Linked DNA regions of Homo sapiens. The protein of the gene in region 1 interacts with the protein of each later gene in a biochemical or structural test. Each region holds a gene or a part of one and is shown on either strand. Other genes may lie near its edges.

The links.
Region 2: the proteins of APCS (region 1) and CERT1 interact in a biophysical measurement, tested with the Homo sapiens proteins (one study listed by IntAct).

What each region holds. Positions count from the first base shown.
Region 1 is NC_000001.11:159,586,573-159,589,576, reverse strand, and holds APCS (serum amyloid P-component precursor), read right to left. Parts: upstream 1,752-3,004; 5' UTR 1,656-1,751; coding exon 1,592-1,655; intron 1,477-1,591; coding exon 869-1,476; 3' UTR 712-868; downstream 1-711. UniProt on the Homo sapiens protein: Can interact with DNA and histones and may scavenge nuclear material released from damaged circulating cells. May also function as a calcium-dependent lectin.
Region 2 is NC_000005.10:75,410,476-75,414,306, forward strand, and holds part of CERT1 (ceramide transfer protein), read right to left. Parts: intron 629-3,831; coding exon 536-628; intron 1-535. UniProt on the Homo sapiens protein: Shelters ceramides and diacylglycerol lipids inside its START domain and mediates the intracellular trafficking of ceramides and diacylglycerol lipids in a non-vesicular manner.

The DNA.
Region 1 (3,004 bases):
GAGTATTCTGTGTATACTCTCTGTGTACATTTCAGAGAGAGTAACTGGGACCAGGTTATAGAGGGCAATGTCATATTTAGAGGTTTAAATCATGTCCTGTAAGAAGTGTGAATCCATGGAAGAATTTTAGACAGCATATTCATGTGAGCAATATTCAGAGTATAATATTTTTTGATGACATCAAGAGAACATTATGAAAATCAAGCATTGTACAGTCCTACTGAGGTTTTTGAGACATAAAGTTATGTTTGTCTTCATACAAAATGATCCCAGTCTCATACTTTTTTGGTTTTCATTCTGACTTCTTCTAGTTTTATTCTTCCTGTCTTATTACTTGCTGTCAGGTTCTCAACTATTGCTTACTTATATCATTATAGTTGTCTACCTGATGCAACCTCAGACCCCTTTTTGATCGATTTGTAGCTGGAAAAACAAATAGGAGAATTGTGATTACAATTCCACACATATTTTGAATCGTCATTAAAATGATTGTTAGTAGCTTTTAAGTATTGCCACTGTTGTGCTCATTGAGTGCTCTGGCTTTGTGATATATCTTTCTAGTTACTTACAGGTTTTCCTCCCCGTACTTGGCAATTGGAGTTTTCAGGATAATGAAACACCAATTACCAATGAAACACCAATTAGTAGATAGATAAGTAGTAGACATAAGATAAAGATATGGGACTATGACAAGCACTAAACAAATGCAGGTAGCATAATACAATATATATTTTTTTAATTAGGCAGACATACAGATAGGAAATTCAAAGAAGAAAGAGCTGCAGATGTAAGATCTAGTATCCAGTTGCTTTGACCAGATCTCTTAGACAGTCATTTCATTTTCAAGTGCTCTCGTTGAGTCAAGACCTCAGACCCACACCAAGGGTTTGATGATGACATATCCTCTGATTTCATAGTTCAGAGCCTGCCAGTCCAGGATATTGGCAGGGAGAGGGGTACCCTGATAGGCAGACAGGATATTTTCTGGGGGCAGCACAGAGTCCCACATGTACAAATCCCCAATCTCTCCCACAAAGGACTGGCTCCTATCAAACTTGCCCCCATAGGAATCCTGTTCCTGCCCCAGGACAATCTTGGGCTGAGCTTCTACAAAGTAACCCTGTCGCAGACCCTTTTTCACCAAAGGTGTCCCATTGATCCAAAATTCAGCAATACCTGATGAGGACTCCCAGCTCACACAGATGTGCACTGGAGCCGGGAACTTTTCGATAACTTTGGATGTAACTTTGTGTCTTCCAATGTATAGACTATACTCTCCAACTCTTTCTTTATAAACTAGTAGCTCATTATCCCTGCCTTGGGTATTGTAGGAGAAGAGGCTGTAGGCACGAGAGAGATCACTATAGGCTCGAAAACACAAGGTAAAGTTCTGTAGAGGCTTCTCCAGCGGTGTGATCAAGTTTACATGATCAGTAACAGATTCTCTAGGAAATACAAACACCTTCCCACTGAGGTCTGCGGGATAAAGAAAGAAAGATAATGACCTTCAGTATAAATGCAGGGAAAAGATATCTCAGCTTCAACCTATTTTCTCACTTTATGATTCTTGACCATTCCTTCACCTCCTTACCTGTGTGAGCAAAGGCTTCCAGGAGGCTGGTGAGGACAGAGATCCAAAGCAGCGGCTTGTTCATATTCCTGGCCTAGGGCTGTTATAGCAGAAGCAGTGACCAGGATGAGGGTAGCAGACAACACAGTGGCTGTCCCCCTAGCGTCTGATATTCATGCCCTTAGACTTCAGGTTATTCAGGGTTTATATGCACCTTGGGTGAGGATGGGGGAGGAAGAGCACCAATAATATGTGAGTGATTTTCCAGGTCTGCCTCCTGGCGCTTACGGTGAAGGAGTGGTGAGCCCTGAGCTGGAAAATCAATGGGAGTTATTTATTAGAGACAAGTGATGGCTAGAGCTCCAACTCCTGTGACCCAGATTTTATTGCTGGGAAGAGAGTCATTGCAGGGCAGCAGGGTTATGGATGGGATGAGGCGCTGGGCTGGCCATGTCAGCAGAGCCTCTCTCTGCTCTCTGGGCCCCCTCTCTGATGGCTCTGTGCTCTGCCAGAAGCTCCTGAGCCACACAGAGTGTATCGCTGAGCTCAGCCCTCTTGTGGGCTATGGGAACAAGGCCTTTTCTTTCTTTTATAGTTCTCAAGTTGTCTTGTATTTGTAGGATATTCTAGGATTCTGCTTTCTGCTGAAGACCCTAAAAAGTGCCTTCAACTTTGACTAATTCAACATCAAGTAATACATCCAGGCAAAGCTAAGGGGAAAGAGGGACTTGGAGAATAAACTTTCTGTCCCCATGAAGCTTAGTATTTTTCTGCTACTTCTACTCAGTGCTTTTTTTTCGTTTGCATATCATGGTGCTTCCTTATCCTAGATCTTTCCATTTCTCATTACGACTTGTTTTCTGGTTACTTCATGCTACCTGCAGAGATGTCAGCATCTCCCCAAGTTTTTCTCTCCTCTTCTTTGAGTCCTTGGTCATTGAGTGTATATCTAATCCATCTTTGGTGATGACCCCACTAATACATTTATTCACTAGCTCTCAGTTACTACACTAGGTGCTGGGGATTCAGTGGTCACTGGCTCTCTCACAGCCCCAGAGATCTCCACCTTCATTCTTTCTATGTCTCCTTCATTCTCTCTCTGTACAGTTTATTAACCACCACTCAAACCTTCTCTGCCTCTGAGATATCAAACTGAAGTTCTTCTTTCTAGCCACATTATTTCTTTCTCTCTCATCCCTGAATTATATGGTGTCTTGTTTCTCATCCTACTGTTTAGCCTCTTGTTCACTCTCTCTTCTGTTAGCTCACCACAGACCTAATCAGCCTTTTCAATGACACAATCACTGCCACCAAGAATACACTTTCTCTATCATTGTTCAAAGTATCCTTCCTATTCTCATCCCTGGGGAGTTTCCATTCTCTACTTTTTTTCTCTAAATGGAATCCCAGGTTGTGAAGCCTTATCTGGCTTGT
Region 2 (3,831 bases), on another chromosome or scaffold:
GGCGGGTGCCTGTAGTCCCAGCTACTAGGGCAGCTGAGGCAGGAGAATGGCGTGAACCCGGGAGGCGGAGCTTGCAGTGAGCCGAGATCGCGCCACTGCACTCCAGCCTGGGTGACACAGCGAGACTCGGTCTCAAAAAAAAAAAAAAGATCTCACAGTATAGTACAGACTAAAATCTTTTTGTCTGCAAAGTACTCAGATTTTTCCTTTATAGTTTGCTTTTATGTTAAAAAAAAAAAAAAAGTAGATAACATTAAAAATGATCATCTTTACAGGGGAGATAAAAATTTGTCCTATCAAGTGAACAGGCCTAATACTAAGCCTTTTGAAGCCTAAACTTTGTAGGCAATAAGAAATATATATTTGAGCATGCCTGGCATTTATATATCATGAAATATACACTGAATTAACATAAACACTGAGGAAAAAATTATATATTTAGAATATTTAAAGGTTACAAGAGTATTATTAAAAAATCACTTTTGTGATAGACATGATCTATGTGTTTCTCTAAGATCAAAATATAAATTCATACTTCATAATCTGGTCCTCCAAAGTGGGATTTTTTCTTAAGTTCTGTCATTGCATTTTTATATGCTTCCTCTGTTCTTCTTTTCTTCTCAGTTTCCTATTAAAAAGAAGTGAAAAATCTGTAATTTGAGGCAGGCATTTTAATTACAATGAAGTCTTTTAGGTGGAATTCCTCTACATTTCACTGAAATTTTACAATTTGACACAAAAAAATTCCACTCCTGTGAAAAATAAGAGTATTATTCTGCCCAAGAAAACACTTTTCTCTAGGCTATAAATTACTTACAACCTACTATTTATGTATGTATGTATGTATGTATTTTTTGAGACGGAGTCTTGCTCTGTCACCCAGGCTGGAGTGCAATGGCATGGTCTCGGCTCACTGCAACCTCCGCCTCCTGGGTTCAAGCAATTCTCCTGCCTCAGCCTCCCAAGTAGCTGGGATTACAGGCTTGTGCCATCACACCCAGCTAATTTTGGTATTTTTAGTAGAGATGGGGTTTCACTATGTTTGTCAGGCTTTTCTCGAACTCCTCACCTCGTGATCCACCCTCCTCAGCCTCCCAAAGTGCTGGGATTACAGGTGTGAGCCACTGCACCCGGCCACAACCTACGATTTAAATCACCACTAAAATCACCTTAAAAGTAGGTTATGTGTTTAAATGGTTAAGTAACTGCATGTATACTTAAAAAGAAAAGAAAAGAAAAAAACCCAGGTAAATTAGCACCTGAAAAATACCTACTATACATTCTTATACTTCCCCTTCCCACCAACCCCAGTTAAGAGATACATTTATTTTGGTATGAAGAAAAACAGCAAGTAATACCAGAAAAGAACTCAGTAGGTGGGATCAATGAATGCTAAAAAGATATTCTAAGAAAGAAAACCTTCTTATACTTTCTCACTGCTGCTTAAGACTGTATTTTAGCGTTGAAAAAGACTTTAGTTATGTATTTTAACACTCTCCTTTTAATGATAGGGCCTATAGCTCTAAAAGGTTAAAAGACCCAGGGTCAACACTTAAAATAACAAAGGTTGGTCCCATATAAAACTTATTTCCACAACAATGGGGTTCACTGGGTCAAAACTGATACTGGAGTCCAGTATGTTTGTAAATAATCTAATGCTTTTATTTCCTCATTTCAAATAGTCATACATGGCTTTTTTCTTTTCTTTCTTTTTTTTACCTTGTCCAAATTCCATTTTCTAAAAGACTGATTTGCTTGGTCCCCCTATTGGGTAATGTAAGCACCACACTTTTGAAAGCGAAAGGGAATGTTAGTAATAATCTTGCTGAATTAAGAACTGCCTTGGTCAAACCAGGATTCATGGTCACTCTGGCTACAGGAAATGTAAACAGCTCTTCCTATTTCCCCTTATTCCCAAAAAAACACTACTCTGAAGAGCGTGATCATCAAAAATCATAAGAGAACAGATTATGCTTGTGATCTAAAGAAGGCTAGTGAAAGCCACATGTATTTACTGTCACATGTTAGTTCACCATGGGGATACAGTCTGAGAAATGTGTCACTGACGACTTAATTCTTGTATAAACATCATAGAGTGTACTTATATAAACCTAGATGGTATAGCCTACTACACATCTAGGCTATAAACATTTACAACATATGACTGCACTGAATACTGAAGGCAATTTTAACATGATGGTTAAGTATTTGTGAATCTAAACATAGAAAAGGGACAGGAAAAATATGATATAAAAGATAAAAAACAGTATACTTGCACAGGGCACTTATGAATGGAGCTTGCAGGATTTGAAGTTCCTCAGGGTGAGTGAGTGAGTGAGTAGTCAATGAATGTGAAGGCGTAGGACATTACTGCACACCACTGTAAACTTTTAACACTGCATACTTAGGCTACACTACATTTATTTAAAAATGTTCTTCCTTCAATAACAACCTTAGCTTACTGTAACTTTTACTTTATAAACTTTTTAATTTTTTAAACTTTTTGAGTCTTTTGTAATAAGATATCTTAAAACATAAACATTGTACAGCAGCACAAAAATATTTTCTTTATACTGTATTCTACAAACATTTTTCTATTTTTTAAAAAATTTATTTTTTTTAACTTTTTAAACTTTTTTGTTATAAACTAAGAGACAACACACACATTAGCCTAGGCCTACACAGGGTCAGGATCATCAAGATGTCACTAGGCAAAAGGAATTATTCAGCTCCATTATCATGTTATGGGACCACAGTTGTATATGTGGTCCATCACTGACGGAAATGTCGTTATGCAGTGTATCACTGAACTTAATGGCTAAAGTCTAAACTGAACTCACACAAAGCAAACTACTTCTAAATACCACATCAGCGTTAAAGACAGTGGAAATCAATGAATCAATGGGTTCATTAGACCCAAAGATTTCATTAATTGATTTTTGTGTACTAAAGAGAAAATGGGACTACAGATCCACCAGAATGACTAAGCCAGGTGCAGTGGCATGTGCCTGTAGTCCTGGTCATTCAGGAGGCTGAGGCAGGAGGATCACCCGAGCCCTGGAGTTCAAGGCTGTAGTATACTAATGGCTGTGTCTGTGAATAGTCATTGCACTTCAGCCTGGACAACACAGTGAGACCCTGTCTCTCAAAAAAAGAAAGACTGTCCCCAAAATCAAACAACACCAACACCTATACACACACACACACACAGACGCACACACACACAATACCAAGTACAGTCAAGAGTGAACAACATCAACAACACCCACACACCCACACATCCCTAACAATACCAAAATGCTGTCAAGAATTAAAAATAATTGGAATCCTCACCCATTGCTGGTAGAAATAATCACTTTGGAAAATCATCAGTATCCACTAAAGTTAAGCATATACCCCTATGAATCAAGAAGTCTACTCCAAGGTATGAGAAATATACCTAAAGATATGCCCCAAGAACTCTCATAGCAGTTTCATTCATGATAGCCAAAAAATGAAAAAAATCTAAATGTCCACCAACAGGAAAATAGATAAGCAAATTGAAGTCATACAATAAAAAGTTATACAATAAAATAGTGTATAGCAATAAAAAAGAATAAACTACTATTAAATATAACAACATGAATGAATCTCACAGTCAAATGTTGAAGGAAAGAGAAGGCCTGACTCAAAAGTATACTGTATGATTCCATTTGTATGTTGTTCCAGAACAGGCAAAACTAATCTATAATGACATAGGTTAAAACCATATGATCACCTCTTGGGGTGGTGGTATGATATGGAATAGGAAGGAGCATGAAGGAACCTTCTAGGGTGCTAGAAAAGTTATAT